Linked DNA regions of Homo sapiens. Changing the gene in region 3 together with the main gene of any one other region gives a genetic interaction. Each region holds a gene or a part of one and is shown on either strand. Other genes may lie near its edges.

The links. Genes that interact genetically often act in the same process or in processes that back each other up.
Region 1: changes in TBL1XR1 (region 3) and B3GNT2 together harm fitness more than expected from each alone (negative genetic interaction), as found in Homo sapiens cells (one large-scale study listed by BioGRID).
Region 2: changes in TBL1XR1 (region 3) and SEC23IP together harm fitness more than expected from each alone (negative genetic interaction), as found in Homo sapiens cells (one large-scale study listed by BioGRID).
Region 4: changes in TBL1XR1 (region 3) and VPS45 together harm fitness less than expected from each alone (positive genetic interaction), as found in Homo sapiens cells (one large-scale study listed by BioGRID).

Annotation. Positions count from the first base shown.
Region 1 is NC_000002.12:62,194,380-62,199,694, forward strand, and holds the start of B3GNT2 (N-acetyllactosaminide beta-1,3-N-acetylglucosaminyltransferase 2), read left to right. Parts: upstream 1-1,735; 5' UTR 1,736-1,976; intron 1,977-5,315. UniProt on the Homo sapiens protein: Beta-1,3-N-acetylglucosaminyltransferase involved in the synthesis of poly-N-acetyllactosamine. Catalyzes the initiation and elongation of poly-N-acetyllactosamine chains. Shows a marked preference for Gal(beta1-4)Glc(NAc)-based acceptors.
Region 2 is NC_000010.11:119,891,071-119,896,309, reverse strand, and holds the start of SEC23IP (SEC23-interacting protein), read right to left. Parts: upstream 3,581-5,239; 5' UTR 3,528-3,580; coding exon 3,365-3,527; intron 1-3,364. UniProt on the Homo sapiens protein: Plays a role in the organization of endoplasmic reticulum exit sites. Specifically binds to phosphatidylinositol 3-phosphate (PI(3)P), phosphatidylinositol 4-phosphate (PI(4)P) and phosphatidylinositol 5-phosphate (PI(5)P).
Region 3 is NC_000003.12:177,047,483-177,051,420, forward strand, and holds part of TBL1XR1 (F-box-like/WD repeat-containing protein TBL1XR1), read right to left. Parts: intron 3,129-3,938; coding exon 2,996-3,128; intron 2,657-2,995; coding exon 2,515-2,656; intron 442-2,514; exon of another isoform or gene 152-441; intron 68-151; coding exon 4-67; intron 1-3. UniProt on the Homo sapiens protein: F-box-like protein involved in the recruitment of the ubiquitin/19S proteasome complex to nuclear receptor-regulated transcription units. Plays an essential role in transcription activation mediated by nuclear receptors.
Region 4 is NC_000001.11:150,073,860-150,078,555, reverse strand, and holds part of VPS45 (vacuolar protein sorting-associated protein 45), read right to left. Parts: intron 2,324-4,696; coding exon 2,244-2,323; intron 1,641-2,243; coding exon 1,572-1,640; intron 1,463-1,571; coding exon 1,325-1,462; intron 888-1,324; coding exon 777-887; intron 1-776. UniProt on the Homo sapiens protein: May play a role in vesicle-mediated protein trafficking from the Golgi stack through the trans-Golgi network.

The sequences.
Region 1 (5,315 bases), on a different chromosome or scaffold from region 3:
AGCCACCGCGCCCGGCCTCTACTTCCTAGAGTTCTTAGAGAATTTCTAGCTTCTGTTTCTTTAAACATGTTTTATTAGCTTTCTAAATTATGAAAGTAAATACAACTGGAAAAATACAAAATCCAAAGTCAAGGGAGTAAAAAAATGTAACTCCCTTGTTTCCCCTCCCCGCGTAACCGTGGTTAACAGTCGGTGTGCACCCTTACAGATGTTTTTTCTATGAAAATACAAACATTCGACTTGTTTCTTGGACTTTACCTCGCAGTCCGAGGAGAATCATGTGAACAGCATGAAAGCAGCATGGTCCGAAGACTGCAAACCATAACATTTCCATATCTACTGACTCTGAATTCCTGTTTCTAGAGGACCCGCACCCACGTGGCTCTGTGCATCCGCAGCAACTTGGTCTTTCTTCCTTTGCTGAGTTTGGTTAAGGGAAAGGGCCGATTATTGAGTGGGCTCAGTTCACAGGTGCCTGAAATTCCTACTTAGCAATGTTCCTTTCCAGCTGATTCCGCCTCCGAGAGCCTTAGGAAAAAATGCTAACAGTTAGGAGCGAAGCGTCCTTAATTGCTCAGTCCAATTATCTAGATGGGTCCAGGTTCGGTTTCGATTCAGAGATAAGGACCAGGGGGCGGGGACGCTTCCAGGTGAGCCCCTGGTTAGGCTTGCCTCCCCGCGGAGCGCACGCGGGTCTCGCTGGCTGGACTGGGCCTTTCAAGACCAGGTAACTTCTCCATCCGGTATCGCCAGGCTTACCTGGGGGCCTCAGAATTGTGTCAGCTGCGTCTCTGAGTCACCTTGGAACCCCTCGAAGGAGCGCGGGGCTAGGAGGGCGCATCGGTGGGCCCGGGGACCCCGCTGCTAGGTGTGGTTGGCGCCAAGGCCGCCTCTGGCCGGCGGAGCCCTGCAGTGTCCGGAGGGTGCGGTCAGAGTCCGGCCCTTTAGGCCTTGCCTCGGTATCCGCCTTGCCCCTTGGGCCGCGGCACGGGTTCGGGCCGAGCGCCCGGCATCTTGCGTTTCTGGCTTCCTGAGACGGGCGTGGGACCTCGAGGAAACCACTCTGCATGACCCCACGAAGAGAACTAAGGACCACCCCCCACCCTTCCTGTCCTGGACGGCTTCATAAGCCAGAGGATCCAGTGGCAGTACCAAGCAGGGCACCACTCTGGGTCGTGAGCACCTAAGAGGTGGAGCAAAGGTCAGACCCCAGGGTGGCCCAGGCCTCCCTCCCCCGCCTCCCCGGCGGGGCCATTCCTCACCCGCCCCAGCACTGGAGGGGGCGGCCGGGGTCGGTCTAGTTCCGGTTACAAACTGGACAGAAAAGGCCACTGGAGTCTCGCTAGGCGATGCGCCTAGTCCCCTAGCCTCAGACGAACCGCAAGAGGGGCCACCCACAACTGGAGGGGCGGAGGCTGGAGCTGAGTTTCATTAGTGTTTTTGGAGCTGCCAGGCATTTCCAGGGGGGTCGCCTTCCTAGAGGCCCCCTTTCCCCAGCTTAACCCTCGGCTTTGCAGGAGGGTGCGTGGGGGCTGGAGGGTCCCTGGAAGCCGCAGGGAGCGCGGGCCCGGGTGGGTCCTGGTACCGGGTGGGGAGAGCGGAACCCTCCCAAAACTTGGGGCGCGGGGCGGGGCCGTCGGGCGGTGACGTGAGGGGCGGGGCCGGGCCCCATTGGCGGGCGGGCAGGGGAGGGGCGGGGCCGGGCGCCCGCGGCGGCTGCTGCGCCTGGAACCGGAGCCTGGAGTGAGGCGCAGCGGCAGCGGCAGCAGCGGCAACAAGTGCCGGAGGCTAGCAGAGCCAAGCCGGAGCAGTCCCTGCCGCCGACACCGCCGGGCCGCCCGTCCGGGGCGCCGCGCATGGAGCGTGAGCTGCGGCGGTCGCCGGGCTGAGCCGCGCGGAGCGGCCGGGACGTGGATGTGGCCGCGATCTCCCGCCCTTGCCCCCGCCCCGCCGAGCTGGAGCTGCTCCCGGACAAGGTAGGGCCCGGGCGCCGAGCACCCCCGCCGGCTCCCTCCCCGCTGCCCTCTCACCGCCAGGCCCCTCTACCAGTCCCCTTCCGCCTCCCTGCTTCCCGGCCCCACCTTCCGGACACCCTGCTACCCCCGCCCGGTTCCTCGCCGGTTCCGGCTTCGTACCCGCGCCCCGGTGGAGGAAGCCGTCCCTAGGTGGCTCCTGCCGCATTTAAGCCTCCCTTACCTTCCCGCCGTCCCAGCCACCCAACCTCAGCCCAGAGGGAGAGGAGAGGGACACCGCCCGCTGCGGGGCTTTGGAACCTCCCAACCCATTCCGTGCCCACCTCGCCCTGGAGCCCGGGGACCTTCCCCCTCCTCGCTGCACCCCAACTTCCGGGGGATCCGGCGCCGGGGCGATGCGGGCTTTGGCAAGGGGCATCTGGGGCCGGGCCTCCTCATCCGGGGCGCGCGGGCATTTCGGGGAGGGGGGCGCGCGTGATTCCTCGCTCGCACCCCCGCACCCCACCCTCGCACTGCGCCGGCCTCCCGTGCCGCATGGGGAGATCAGGTGTTTTGTGAGCCAAAGAGCCGCCGGCAGCCGCTCCCCACCCCCCACCCCCAACCTCTGCCACTTCTGTCTCCGGCTCCCCCAAAACTGGTTTCTGCCAAACTTAGGGAAAACCTTTCGCTTTGACCTTTTAAAAAAAATATTCCACACTGTTTGCGTTGAATGATTAACCAGGCTGCTAGCCCGAGTCGTGGGGGTGGGGTGGGGCGGGGTGGGGTGGGTGCTGCCAGGCCAGGGAGCGCCTGAAGCCGGACTCTACGAGACACCCCTCGTGGGAAGGTGGGCGTGGGGGGCCCTGCCGGGGCTGCGGGCGCGGGACTGGCGGCTACTCCAGCACGGCAGGCGGACCCTTCTGGAGGCAATAAACCGAGTCACCCGGTTAATTTCCAGGCCACGGTATTTGAAACTCGGGGCTGGGGAGCCGCAGAACTCCCTGTACCCCCATCAAGTAGAGGAGCCGTCGGGAGACTCCCCACAAGTGTCACAGCGTCAAAGCTCATCTTTAAAAATATGTACATTTATAACCTGGGTTGGCGAGGCGGCGCTCTTCTGCCCAAAACGTAGGGGTGGTTAGTTTGTAGAGTGGGCTTAGCTCACAGGTGCCTGAGCTGTATCCCCGTGGCCGCCTCAGCCACCCCAACTTCTCAGAAAGATTGTTTAGAACAATTAAACTATATTCTTTTGCCCTTCTCTTGTTGGAACCCTACCGTAATATCCGATAGCGAAGCCAGTTGGTGAATATAGAATTCTACTTGTTAAAACAAATTCTTCCGGTATAATTATTTGTGCCTCTGGAGGTGGTAAACGAGGTGGCCGACAGGGCCGGGACTGGGAGTGAAAAGGCGGGGACCCTGGCCGAGCCAGTCCCGGGGCTCCGGTGCCGGCTTATAGTCGCACCCATGCGGATCTGACAGCTGACCCGGAGGGAGGACCGGCAGGGCAGGGCAGGGCGGTCACTTCCCATTGTCCTAACTCCTGCTCCTGGTTCTTTTGAGTAGAGGGTGGTTAAGCCTGGAGGAATTTGGGAGAGTTTTACTCGGAGCCCATGCGCTCTTAAACCAGATTAGATTTTAAGAACACAGAAGTGAAGGAGCCCCATAGGGCTGTACTTGAGTAATTTGAGTAATCCTTTTCCTCCCTGCTCAGACTTTACAAATGTGTTTATCATTAGATCTTCTGTTTGAAACTACTTTTTTAGTTCGGAATATTGCTTTTTCTCCCTACAGCAAGGGTTCACTGTTTCTCATTTAGTTTTTGTGCAGGCGGCATTTGTATGATGAAGGCCTAATTCTCTGTGAAACTGACCAGTTCTCACCCTTGCCATTCATTAGACTTGATTCTGCCACATTTAATTCAGTGATCTTGGGCAAGTTATTCTTCACCTGAGCCTCATTTTACACATCTGGTTTTGGGGATGGTGGTGTTTGCTCTGCAAGATTATTTCTGAGGACAAATAGGATGTTTGCCAAACTCCTAGCACTGCACCAGGAGAGCTAAGAAGTGCTTAATAAATGGTGGTCATTGCTGTAATCAATAGAGAAGTTCCTCCTGGCATCGACTTCCCCTTACCAAAAACAGTAACCCTGTGGTAGCCTTTTAGATTTCCCTGTCTGAGACTGAAATCAGCCACATTTGGCAGATGCACATCAGAAGGTTCTTAAAACCTAAGTAGTATTTTGAGGAAAATAAGCATGATTTGCTTGTTGTTCAAAAATTATGAATTTTTTTCTGGGCTTCTGGTGAAGGGCTGAATATATGAAGGTTTGTAGTTTTGAAAATTTTCTTGTTTTAAAGAAAAGTCATGTTTTAGGTTTCTGATAAACTAAAGTTGTGCTAAAAATAGGAAAGTAGAACTGATAATTCATAGTTGATTTTGACTATACTGTTCAGATATGTGGTTTTTTTTAAAAAAAATAGTTGCATTAGTGAGGCATCGTTGGTATGTTCTGAAGAGAAATATGCAGGGCTTTTTCAGCTGATGCAGGGATAAAAGAAAAGGTGAATCTTCTGTTTCTCAAACTTTGAAACTTAGCTTTAAATGTTTTTTTCTTTTTTTTTTGAAATGGAGTCTCACTCTCCCGCCCAGGCTGGAGTGCAGTGGTGCAATCTCAGCTCACTGCAACCGCTGCCTCTTGGATTCAAGTGATTCTCCTGCCTCAGCCTCCCCAGTAGCTGGGATTACAGGCATCCACCACCACGCCTGGCTAATTTTTGTGTCTTTAGTAGAGACAGGGTTTCACTGTGTTGGCCAGGCTGGTCTCGAACTCCTGACCTGGTGATCCACCCGCCTAGGCCTCCCAAAGTGCTGGGATTACAGACGTAAGCCACCGCGCCTGGCCTTAGCTTTAAATGTTTTCTAGCAATGCTAGGGTTTCATGAAAATCCTAATTTAGGGATGCTGATCCACAGCTGTTAATACTCTTGACATACTGGGTCAGTGCTTTTCATTCTTTCTGACTTGGTTAATGGATGTAGTATTTGACTGTATTTTTCTGTATTTTTTTGATGGTTTTATTGGAAAGTCTGTTAGAGACTTTAAAAATTAATAACTGCCTATGGTTACTTTTATAAACATTGAGACCTTGAGATCTTGCAACTAGGATAATACTTGGTGATGTGTAATCTATTGCAACATCCCTGATGGTGGTACATACATCACCAATACTGAAAGATTCTCATAAAGGCCTTTTGGTCTCTTATGTAAGTGCCCAGGGGAAACTAAAGTCATTTGGTTGCTTGGTATTTTTGGTGTGTACAGAAGGTTAAAACATGAATTAAACTAGACTCTGAAGTGG
Region 2 (5,239 bases), on a different chromosome or scaffold from region 3:
ATATTTATTCAAGAAATATTTACTCAGGATGCATTCTGTGCCAGGTACAGAGCTCAGTCTTGGGTCTAAAACTAAACAAAAATGGGCCTCTGTTCTGACAGACAGAGCTGACACTCTGGTCTTCTGTGAGTCTCTACAACTGTATAGTCCACACATCTCGCACATCTGCTCCCTGCTCCTCACACCCAATGTGGCTGACTCAGGCTAGACTGCCATAGCCACTGCCAGCCTCTCACTATGCCTCCCAACTGAATCCTCTTGCTACAGTCAACCTTATTCCAGTGCGACTAGAGAAAACTCCAGTCTTTCTGAAACACACGTCTAATTTCACTGCCTTGTTGAAAATCCTTCAAAGGCTCCCCAACACCCCACAAGATGAACTACAAACTCCTCCTGAGTATGGCATATGTGGCCCATAGATCACTGAGGCCACTCCACTGCACACACTCTAGTCAAAGTGATCTACTGGGGGCAGAGGACACAGGGGAGAGGAGACAAAGGTGAAGGGACAGGAGAGAGGGATGAGCTCCATCCCTGTCCCATTCCACCAACCACTAACTCCTGCCAAATCTGAAGATTTTTTCACACCTTCAGACTTCACATATGCCTGTCTCTCCAGTTTCCCTCACTTCTATGTATCCTTCAACACTCAGCTCAAGCATCACCTCCCCTAAGAGGCCCTGAAGGCCTAAGGGACATCCATTCCCCGGCTCAGCCAGCCTGATACCCGTAGCATTCATAGCCATCTATCAATCCCTCTTTCTAACTGTTCTAAACCTGTATCACAGTTGCTTACACAGGTGGGTGTGTGTGTATACACACATACTGTGCAGTCATTGAGGGCAGGGCTGTCTGCTCTTCTGTGTCTCCCAGGTTCTGGAACAGTGCCTGGCAAATAGAAACTGCTCAATCCATGTCTGGTTTTTGTTTTTGAGATGGAGTCTCACTCTGTCGCCCAGGGTGGAGTGTGCAGTGACATGACCTCAGCTCACTGCAACCTCCTCCTCAAGCGATTCTCATGCCTCAGCCTCCCGAGTAGCTGGGATTACAGGCGCCCACCACCACATCCAACTAACTTTTGTGTTTTTAGTTGAGATGGGGTTTCACCATGTTGGCCAGGTTGGTCTTGAACTCCTGACCTCAGGTGATCCACCCGCCTCAGCCCCACAAAGTGCTGGGATTACAGGCGTGAGCCACTGTGCCAGGCCTTCCATGTCTGCTGAATGTATGAAATTGCTTCCTGTGTCTCTCTTCCACTTATATGATTAACTGTTGCTTCCAGGGAGACAGGTTCTTCTTTTGTCTCTGGAAATTCTCTGAATGGGTTTCTGAGATTTTTAGAGATGAATTTTAGTTCTAAAATTATTAATATTCACACACACACACACACACACACACACACACACACACACACACAGACTGTCTCCAAGAAACAAAAGCATTAAAGACAGGTGTAGCTATACCAGACTTAACAATGAAAACGTTTAGCATGAATTCACAGTGACACACACAAACCAAACACTACATAGCAAGGAAGACGGACATAACCAAACAACTTTAATGGTGCAGAGGATAATTAGAAAACCCCAAGTATAGCCCTATTTATTCCTGCATCCTCCCACAGCATTCTGCTCCAACCATGCTGGTTCTTCACCAAAGACAGCAACACCTAACCTTTCAACCACAGGTCAAAATGAGACATCATTTTGACTCCCATCCTTTCACTCATTCAACAAACATCTACTGAATAATTGGTCTACTAAATACCACACACCATTCTAGGCAGTGGGAATATAATCGTGAATAAAAGTAAGTTTTTGCTTTCATGGTCTTACATCCTAGTGCAGTGGAATAAACAAATATGTGTACATGTCAGGTAGTGACAAGCATCAAGAAGAAACATAACACATGGGCAGGGGAACCTTCATGTACAGCTGTTCCCAGTGTGCCTGTCTTCGCTTCTCCATGAAACTGTCTTTCATCCTTCAAACAAGAATAAATTATTCACTGGAAACTCAGCATCCAAAGAGGATCTATGTACTAGGCCCTAAATAAGATCCTGGAGATAAAAAGGCAATTAGGTCATAGCTGCTGAAGAAGACTGCAGTCCAAATGGAGAGGCAGGTGTGTTTATTTCACAAACATTAAATCACACTGTCTGGCACGCACTATACTTAGCGCTTTGCAAAAATTAAAGCATTTCTAATTACAATTCTGTGAGGCTACACATACATAGAAACTGAAGCACAGAGAGGTAAAGTAAAATGCCTACAGTCACACAGCAAGTTACTGGCAGGGCAAGGACTGGAATACAGACAGTCTGTGCTCTTAAACACTATGCTCTGGGCAATGCTACATAATCATCAAAAAGCAATCTCCCTGGACAATAATACAAATATGAAAAAAGAGCTAGGAGTGCACATAGGAGTGGGGGCCTAAGAGAACAAGAAACAGCTTCTTGGAAGAAGTGATGTATTGTCTTGAAAGATGAGGAATGGGTGGGGGGTTAAACCTGTAATCCCAGCACTTTGGGAGGCCAGGGCAGGCGGATCACTTGAGGTCAGGAGATTGAGACCATCCTGGCCAACATGGTGGAACCCTGTCTCTACTACAAATACAAAAATTAGCCAGGCATGGTGGCAGACGCCTGTAGTCCCAGCTACTCGGGAGGCTGAGGCAGGAGAATCACTTGAACCTGGAAGGTGGAGGCTGCAGTGAGCCGAGATCGCGCCACTGCATTCCAGCCTGGGCGACAGAGCAAGACTCCGTCTCAAAAAAAAAAAAAAAAAAAAAAAGATAAGGAATGCATTGTATATGTCTACTTCACAAATATTACAGGCTTCTAGAAGAGGGGCACAGTCCATCTTATAAGATATCTTACTGTAACCTAGAAGATATTGTACTGTATCACAACAATCTCCTAGTAGGAGACAGTGTACCGTATCCTAGGAGAGGGGCACAGTCCATCCTAGGAGGTATCTTACCGTATCCTAGGAGTCTCCTAGTGGGAGACAGACTACTGTACCCTAGGAGAGGGCCACTGTTTAATTTATTTGCATTTCCTGCCAGCACCTGGCGTACCAACAACGGGTATTCAGCAAAGATTTGCGGAATGCCAGGGTACGAATGAATGTCCAGCACTCTGGACAACTCGGAACAGGGGGTTTCCGTGAAGAGCAAGTCTCATCACCTGCCACCTCCAAGATCCCAAAGCCCCCGACCCACTCAAACCTGGCCAGTAATGATCCTGGCAAGCTATCCAGAGGGTAGCTCGAGGCAGAAGGAAAAACTCCCGTCTGACCTTTGTCATTGCACGTCCCCCGCCCGCCTCCCACCACACACGGGGCCGCCCTCCCCTTATTACCTCCCGGTAAGAGCAGGGAGGCCGGAGAAGCGGAGGCCTGGGTGACTGGGATGAAGGGCACATTGAAGCTGAACTCCGTGGCCGAGGAGGAGAAAAGTAAGTTAGTGCCCGATGAGGAAGTGGAGGCGCCGCCGCTGCCACCGTTAGGTTTTCTCTCGGCCATGGCTGCGGCCCACCGTCCGATACACGTCTCCGGGTACCCGGTACCACACCACTGACCGGAAACCGATCACGCTCCTGGCCAGCGCACTTCCGCACTTGCGCACAGGAGCCGAAATTACGGGTAGCTAGTCAGCCGCCCTCTCCCTTCCCCTACACGGCGACGCCAGATATCAACATGGCGACACTGTCTTCACGCCCGCGTCTAGCACGTGACACCCTCGGAGGCGGAGGCCGGGCGGGAGGATGGGGACGTGGTCCCCGCAGGTTCTGGATAGACGTGCGAATTGAGACGCAATTGACCCTGAAAGTCACAGGTTGTGGCGGGTATCTATGGGCTTCCTAAAGGTACCGTCAGGATGGCTCTCCTGACAAAGATTTTGGAGGAACAGCGGAATCCTGCTGGACGCTACCGGAAGGAGGAAGGGAGGAAGAGCGTTGTGCGGGAATGGGAATTCGCATGCTAGGCGGAACCAAACACCCTCTCCAAAACCCACTTGTCTTTCTGGATGGAACCGAACATTGTGGTTGACCCAGAAATAGAAGTGGTAAAACATTTTTTAAGTGTTTAATCCATAGGGAGAAAAAAATATTTCGTTTTATTTTTGTTGTTTTTTGTTTTGCATTTGTTTTTTGTTTTTTTGGTTGGTTTTGTTTTTTGTTTTGAGACAAGTCTGCTGTGTCGCCCAGGCTGGAGTGCAGCGGTGCAGTCTGGGCTCATTGCAATCTCCGCCTCCCGGGTTCAAGCGATTCTCCTGCCTCAGCCTCCGAGTAGCTGGGACTACAGGCGTCCGCCACCACGCCTGGCTAATTTTTTGTATTTTTAGTAAAGACGAGGTTTCACCGGGTTGGCCAGGATGGTCTCAATCTCCTGACCTCGTGATCTGCCCGCCTTGGCCTCCCAAACTGCTGGGATTATAGGCATGAACCACCACGCCTGGCCAAAAAAAATATTTAAAAGAGAAATCAAACCAGACGCCATGGCGCAGGCCTGCAATCCCAGCACTTTGTGAGGCAGAGCGGGAGGATAGCTTGAGCCCAGAAGGTTGAGACCAACCTGGCCAACATGGTGAAACCCCGTCTCTACTAAAAATACAAAAATTAGCCGGGCTTGGTGGCATAGCACCTATATTGCCAGCTACTCAGGAGGCTGAGGCGGGAATATTGCTTGAGGCCAAATTAACCCTGATCTTGCCACTCACTGTGCAGCGAGACCCTGTCTCCTTAAAAAAAAAAAAAAGAAAAAAAAAGAAACCAGGGCATTGAAATTAGAGATCTGACATTTTAGATAGCTTTCTATATCCACAGTAAGCTGACTTACTTCAATCCAGGAGGTACTGTGGATAACTTGGACATAATTGTCATCTTTCATAGTTAGAGATTTTGAAGGAAAATATAACTTAAGCCATATTTCAGCTTCTTGGAGGTTGGGAGAGGAGATACCAAAAGAACGCTCAAAATAATGAAACTCTGCTCAGCTGTTTACACATATATAGAACCTAAGTTTATTAATTCAATAACGATTTCATGTGCTTACTGTCAAGAAAAATTTTTTAAGTGGGACACTCGTTAAAGCAGTAAATTAGATTTTATTTAATGAAAACTATTGCTAGGGAATTGGGTCCAGCATGAACTGAACACAACTTTGCTGAAACAAAAATTTGGAGGCTTTTTAGAGGCTGTGGTGTGCTAAGGGAAAGGTGCTGAGGAGTGTGA
Region 3 (3,938 bases):
TACCATCTTTAGTCCATATTCTGGCAAACCCATCATAGGAACCAGTTGCTAGAAGTGTACCTTCACTCTGCCAGAGAAAAACATTTCTTTAATTATATAATCTAGATACGGTATTTAATTGTTGTTAAAGTATTTCATGTTTAAATCCCAGGTACAGAAGAGAATGAAGACATTCTCTGCTTCAAAACTTGTCAGTTTTGCCTACTTGTGAGTGCCACTAAAGGCCTATGAAACCCTTCCACTGTGTGACACTAATGTTGTATGGGGGCCTTATATCCAAAGTTCAACAACTGACAGTGATTGCTCTGGACCAGGATCTACATCACCCCACCTCATGCATGCCAAAAGTATTCTCACAGACTCACACAACTAAGAATGAAGGTAGAGTGGTGGACTGGGAAGAACATCAAATTCATAGTCTTACAATGATTTATTAGAAGTAAAAAAGAAAAACTTTAAAATATGATTAGAAGGTTTTATATGGCCATTCCTCTAAATCCTTTACTGTCTAAAACGAAGTGTGTGGGTATGATCCAAACAATATCATTGTTTCGAATGATCAGATTCTTAAATACTTGAATGTTCCTTTCTATTATTAATCCCTTCCCACTATGAAATATTTGCCAATAAAAAGATCAACAAGGAAAAGAGCCAGAAAAGAGCACAGGCTGACTTTATAGTTAATGAAGTAAGTACAACTGCCTACTTTACCAGGAGGAAAAGTCCATATAAATTTCTCTCAACTTATATTCCCTTGCTGTGCACCTTGCCTCGATGAATTGTGTAATAAAAGGACAGATCTAACCTACTCTATGCAAACACAGAAGTTACAGATTATAGTAAACAGACTATTGCTAGAATCAGTAAACATTACTGGAGAATGAAATCCTGCATTACTTGACATATTATTGATGGTTTTTGGTAAGGGCATTCAAAACAAGATCACCTATTTCACATCTCTCAAGCCATTTAGCAGTATGGCTAAGTGACAAACAAAAACAAATGCTGGTTCTGGGAACTGCAGACTCAATTCTGCTGGGATGTGGCCATCCCTTAGGGCTCTGTCTCAAGAAGAAGGGGAGCCATGTTGAAGTCAACAGTAAAAGCTTATTTCCACATCCTACACAATGTCAAGTTTCCTCTAAACTATCAGTCCCTAAATGTTTTAGTTCATGAACTGCTCAACTAGGAAAATACTGTAAAGATGAGAAATCTCACAGGCTCTCTTGCTTTAGCCATGGAAAAGAATCATTAATCGAGGATAATGTTTTCCAAGTTCACCGTGAATAACACATTTTTTAAAAGCCCACACTTTTCAAAACTATAAAATGCAGTTCAGAACTACCAAGCTCAACAAACCAATATTCATTAACCATCCTTTTCAGTGTAAACTATAAATTTCATTAACATGGCCAGTGGACCAGGTAGCGTAAGAAAGCTGTAAGATATCTGAACTAAAATATAATAAGGGCCCATATTAAGAAAATAATTCTGTCTTGATCTTACAAGTAAATAATACTACAATGTGCTAAACCCCTTTGGAATTTTTAGAATTGTCATATGGAGGGGAAGAGTAAATATGCTGCTGGCAATTTTGGAAGAAAATGCTAAAAATACCTAGCTATGATTTCTGAAAAAACATTTCACAGAAACTGAGAACTTTAGTGGGGATAATCATTTTAAAGATAGATCTCATTCCCGGGGAAAAGAATTGGAAGATCCTTTAGAAAGTCCACAAAGGGTTGTTAAACAGAAGAGAAAAGAACATTCATTTGCTGAGCAAAGAACAACTATCTTGATATTCTTTGCAATGCTGAAATAATCTAAGAGTTTTGGGGGAGGGGCAGGGGGTAGCGGAGCGAGGTAAGAGATGTATTTAAAACTATAATGGTGAGAATTTATCAACAACGAAGTCAAAGTTTTTTGTAAGTCACAGTAGTCAAGTTGTCCTGAAAGATGTTGAATCATACACAGAATCAGAGAATTACAAGATTCCTACAGTGGGAATAAAATTCAGACGTTGTCTAGACTAATGATCCCTAAAAGGAAATTGGTAATAAAGTTCTACCAGTTCACAGAATACAGAGAAAAACAAGAACATGTTTTTTGCTACACAGAATTCTTTTATCCCCTAAGGACTCGGTTGTTATAGATTTAGTATGTTGTTTGTTATTATGGTAAGAATTTTCACCTATTATCTCAAATATTTAGGTACCATTTTCACACTTCTACTTGACATTTAAAGAAAATGAAGTACAGAGTAAAAAGTAACAATTTAACCAAGGATATGCTGTGGGATACACTGAAGAGCTGGATGTTGAACCTTGGTCTGACTAAGGCAAGTCTGTGTCCCACAGTGGGGGAGAGGGCTGGCAGGGGACGACTCCCGGTTTGTTGTTACTAGTTAATAAAACCCCAAATTCTGAACAAATAGACAAACCCTGCCGTGAGTATGAGGCTCTGAGGGTTAGGTATACTAGTAATTATATCCATCATGGATATAGTGATACTCACATTCCAATCTAGAGATGTGACATCCTTGTTGCTTGGAACATCTTGCCCTCCTTCTCGTATACAATGTCTAAGTACTAACTGTGTAGAGCCACTGGTGCTGTTCTCACTAAGATTCCATATTCTTGCTGTTGAGTCTCCAGACCTATAAAAGTATGCAATATATTTTAGATCCTCATGACATTCTCACGTATCAGAACAAGGCAACATATTTACATCTGAATATTAATAAGGCAAATAAAAACGACTATCACGAATTTTCATTTCCAGTATTTTTCCCATTCTACACGTTGGGACCCCCAAGCATTCTCGAAATAGTAAGTTTAATTAAAAATTCTACAATTACTTCATGAAGGAATAAAAAATTTACAGAGACAAAATGGCCACAACTAAGCAACAACAGAAAACCTGAATAATGCATATGTTTATAAAATGTTCAATAAGATATTTTTAAGTCATTTTAGTATCACTTTGAGAAACATACCCTGATGCTAGGAGATCACTAACAGGGTTCCAGGCACAGATAAAAACTTCAGATTCATGGCCCCGCAACACAACAGCTTTATTAGGAGGGATTTCAACATCCCCATCCACTTCCATCATATCAGTATGATTATCTGCATCGTGAAACACAAGTAAGCATTTCCAGTTAGGCAGTATTACAACATGGTGGATGGGTGATTTCTTAACTAGCAAATACCTTCCTTTATCGCACACAGTGTAACATTTTTCAATTATATCCAGTTAAGCTGAACATGACTACACAGTCTTAGTCACACAGAAAATAAATTCTTATCTTTAATTAAGTATTGACCACATACTTTTTTTTTAGAGGGGTGGGGGTGGGAGTGGGATGGGAGACTTTAAATGATTAGACCTAAACATGGATAAAACGATAAAATGGTTTGAATTAAATATAATGTCTATCAGTACTATTCTGAGTTTCTGCCAGTAGGGGTTGCTGATATCATTCATATAACATGAGTTGCCTTTTATCTCGATGTCAGAGCTCTATGGTTATTTGTTGATAACTAGTATTACAAATTTTATTTAGAAATCAAATGTAGATGTAAAAATTCATTTAACAATGGGAAAAGGGTTTCTAGATATTTTAAAAAGAAAATAAAAGTAAATCTAGCTTTTTGGAGCTTTAGGAATAAAAATCTGAATTGAACTGTGTGATACAAGTTAGGGAAACAAGTTGGTGCAAGTTAACAGATGAAATTATTTCAGCATAGAAGATGGGGCATTTCTTCTGAGAAAAAATTTTTAAAAATTCTTGTCTCCTGGGACCTTCCTGGGGGGTGGAGGGTGGGAGGAAGAGGAGGATCAGAAAAAATAACTATTGGGCACTAGGCTTAGTACCTGGGTGATGAAATAGTCTGTACAACAAACCCCTGTGATATGAGTTCATCTATATAACAAAC
Region 4 (4,696 bases), on a different chromosome or scaffold from region 3:
ACTCTTGACCTCAGGTGATCCAGCCACCTTGGCCTCCCAAAGTGCTGGGATTACAGGCGTGAGCGACCGTGCCCGGCCAGATTGAGTGGTTTTAACAGCAGTATTTTGATAGGTGAAGATGGGAAGAGAAGGTATTCCAAACATTCTAGAGTTTAGAAAGCAGTCACAGTAAAAGCATGCTGGCAGGAAACCATGTGGCATTATCTATGTAAGTGGTGAACTCTAGGTTTTATAAGAGGTTTAGCCCACATTGTGAAGGCTCTTGGATGCCAAGTTCAGGAGTTTCTTTTTAACCTAGTAGGCAAATGGGAACCAATGAAGTTTTTTAAGCCAAGAGTAATAAGATAGAGCTGTGCTTTAGGAAATTGTACTTGTGGAACATTTGGAGTGAGAAGAAATAAAAAGTAGGGAACGAAGTAGATGACTATTTCAATATTCTTGCAAGAGATTAGGATCTAGACCAAGGCAATGGCTGTAAGCATGGAAATGAGGAGACAGAAGGAAACACAGGGAAATAGAATCTACAGAATTAAGAAGCTGTCTTGATTAGGGGTGGAGGTACTGGCAGAAAGGTACAGGAGAGATGAAGCAGAAGAGTTATGATGACAGTGGATGGAAGAATCATGATACCAAAACACCAGGAAATACAAAGCAAAACCAAGAATAGCTAAAAATAAGGAGGCAAATAAATGGACCATGTTTTTACTTCCCTATCTGTATTTTGATGAATATCACTTAAAATTATCCTTCTATTATGCCAAGAAAGGGTTTTGTACCTGGTTTAGCAATGGGGTGATGGCATCATCACAGCGATCTAAAATAAGGAGCAATGGAGGAACCTCTGTCCGACGGAATTCAAACAGTTCATATTCTTTAGTTATCACTTGCTGTGGGTGAGAGAGAAAGATGGTTTGTGCAACCATCTAGTTACATATAGAAATGATATAAATAGGAAATTAATAAACACTACATTTAACAATAGTTCTTTGCACCCACATAGATCTTCCATATGAAGGATTCAAAAGTCTCACAAAGTTTAGTAGCATACTATTTAAGAGGTTAGGATATGAAACCCTATTTTATAAGTGGTTTAACTGGACCAAAAAAAGTTAAATAGCTTGTGAATGTTTCTTGGGTTAAACCTAAGAATCTTAGCTCTAATTGTTGCTTTTTGTTTTAAATTACATATACCTACCTCTTTTCGCGGAAACCTAACATACAATCATCTCCTTGGTTGTAAATAAACTATTCCTTTAGTTTCTGAAATATGATAGAGAAATGAATGGCCTTTATGTTTTGGAACCAGGAATAGGTAATGCCATACCTTAACGCACTCTGCAAGTCTCTTTGCTGCCTCTGATGAGAGCTGATAACGAATCATGGGACACTTCTTCAGAGATAAAAGGAGAGCTGTAAGCCCTTGAGTTGTTCTAGATAGCTGGGCTGGATCCCAATTTCGACCCTTTTTGTTAAAAACATATATTCAGAGAAAATATTTGAATTTTCTCTTACAAGTCTAATTATTTGCTGAATTAACTCTCGACTGATAAATTAAACCTTTCCTTCCATACCTGGCAGCAACCCAAAATATTGAGGGAAAACAAATGTGGGTTCACAGCAATGTAATCACCATAAAATTCCTGCAAATAAAGCACCAAGAATAGTCATTCCATAAACTTCAATTGTATCAAGCAGTAATATTTTCATAAGTGATATAATATGATATAGCCAAACTTTGTGAAATACAGGTGTAAAGAGATACTAAATTGTTCAATTAATAATTGGGTAACAACAGTCAACGTGGGAGAATTAAAATAATTACAAAACAGTAGCAATAATAATAAATCTAACAAATAAAGGTTGTAAGGTTATACACATTATATTTCTGGAGACCTCTATGCATACTTATCAATTAGTAAAAATAAAATACTGCTAATAGGAGATACAATGTTCTACTCAGATAAAAAAGAACTTTGCTGTCCAATGTGTTGTCATGAGAGAGAATATAATTTAAAACAGGTATTCTTTTTATTCATTTATCACCTATCACATCCTTCTGAAAAATTCAAAACTAGTTTATTTGCTGCCTCTGAAAACAATATTCCTCATTTATGTGATAAACATATTCAAGTATTCATAATAAAACTTCTTTTGAGACAGACCTTTCCTTATTTTTTATTTTTAGACTCAAATATTTAAAAAGGGCCAACATACGAGATGTGTTACAGGACCAATATGTTTACCTGAACCTCAGCCACAACTTCCTGTTCATCAGCTTCAGCCAATGACTTCACGTCACTCTTGCTGATCACATTACTGAAATCTGAAACACATGAGTTGGGGTTGACTCAAAGGAGATAATTTCTGCTGCAATATATGTAAAAGGGCCTGATAGTTAAAGCCTAATGAATAAGTGACCTTCAAATTGGAATGGGTAGCAAAAATATATTTAATCCACAAATTCATAATTTTATATATATATATATATATATTTTAAAAGGACTGGCCAGGCGCGGTGGCTCACACCTGTAATCCCAGCACTTTGGGAGGCTGAGGCAGGTGGATCATGAGGTCAGGAGATCGAGACCATCCTGGCTAACACGGTGAAACCCCGTCTCTACTAAAAATACAAAAAAAAATTAGCTGGGCGTGGTGGCGGACGCCTGTAGTCCCAGCTACTCGGGAGGCTGAGACAGGAGAATGGCATGAACCCAGGAGGCAGAGCTTGCAGTGAGCCCAGATCAGGCCACTGCACTCCAGCCTGGGCGATAGAGGAAGACTCCATCGGAGGAATTGGAGAATGAGAATACTAGGGAAGTAAGTCATTTTATTGAAAATAAGGAGAAAGAAGTAAACTTTCATGCTGTCTTTTATATATAAACTGTACTACCAGGTAACCAAATAGATGAGGGAAAATTTTTCTTTGTGAAAACATTCCAGCTCAACAATAACTAACAAATGTTAATGACAGAATTAGAATATCATCATTTTTTCTAACCCCCAATGAATCAATTGAATGGACCCAGGCATTGAGCATCAGCAGCTACTAATATCAAAAGAATAAGCAGCCAATGAAAGCACACAATACCACCTATAAAGTATTCTTGCCAAGAAGAAATCAAATCTTAACCTAATTAAGGCTCTGTATTCACCTATGAATTTACAGGAACTAGAAGACAGAGGAATATTTTAAACTTCAAGGAACATGTTAAACTACCCCCTGGGGATGCAATCAGCAAGATCCAGTCTGTGGAAAACTTAACAGTTTCTTCAATAAATAAATTGCATGGGGCAGCAGGGGCAGGGGTGGGAGGACCTATACAGAAGATTAAGAAACTTAACATATCAACCAACAGCAATGTGTGAACCTTACTTTGATCCTGATTTTAAAAAACTGTAAAAAAAAAAAAAAAAAAAGACAATTTTAAATTTGAACGCTGAATGGTTATTTGAAAATGGTACTAAGAGTTCAAGACCAGCCTGGGCAACATCACTTGAACCTGGGAAGTTGAGGTTACAGTGAGCCGAGATCATGCCACTGCACTCTGTCTGGGTGACAGAGGGAGACTGTGTCTCAAAAAAAAAAAAAAAAAAAAAAAAGAATAAATAATTATTTTTCACTTTTAATCTAGATGTAATAATGGAAATGTGTTTTTTAAAAAAATGAGTCCTTATCTTTTAGAGATGCCTACTGAAATACTTATGGATAAAATTATATAATGTCTTAGATTTGCTTTAAAATAATATTGCTGGAGAAGTAGGTGACAGTATAGCTAAAACAAGATTGGGTGAGGCTCAATAATTGTTGAAACCAGCTGATAGGTACATTGGAACTTATGATACTATTCTACTTTTGTATGTCTTTAAAAGTTCGGTGCGGTGGCTCACACCTGTAATCCCATCACTTTGGGAGGCCAAGGTGGGCAGATCACACATGGAATTACCATATGACTCAGCAGTTGCACTCCTGGGGGTTATTTACCCCAGAGAATGAAGACTTAATGTTCACATAAAAATCTGTACACAGATATTTATAGCAGCTTTATTTGTAATAGCCAAAACTGGAAATAACTCATATGTCCTTCAATGGTGTATAGTTAAACAAACTGTGGTACATTCATACCATGGAATACTACTCAGCAATAAAAAGAAATGAACTATTTTTAAATTAAGAAAACTTTTTTTTTTGCAGTTCCAGCTCAAAGGAGGAATGAACTATTAATACACACAACAGGTGAGGTGTGGTGGCTCATGCCTGTAATCCCAGTACTTCGGGAGGCTGAAGCGGGCGTATCACCCAAGGTCAGGAGTTTGAGACCAGTCTGGACAACCAACACGGTGAAACCCTGTCTCTACTAAAAAAAAATACAAAAATTAGCTGGGCGTGGTGGTGTGTACCTGTAATCCTAGCTACTCGGGAGGCTGAGGTGGGAGAATCGCTTGAACCCGGGAGGTGGAGGTTGCAGTGAGTTGAGATGGCGACACTGCACTCCAGCCTGGGTGACAAAGCAAGACTGCTTCTCGGACAAAAAAAAAAAACAAAAACAACACACACACACACACAGAACAGCCTGGATGACTCTCCAGAGAATTATGCTGAGTGAAAAAAGCCAGTCCCAAAAGATTATATGCTGTATGATTTCATTTATAGAACATTCTTCGAATGACAAAATATAAAATGGAGAAAATATTAGTG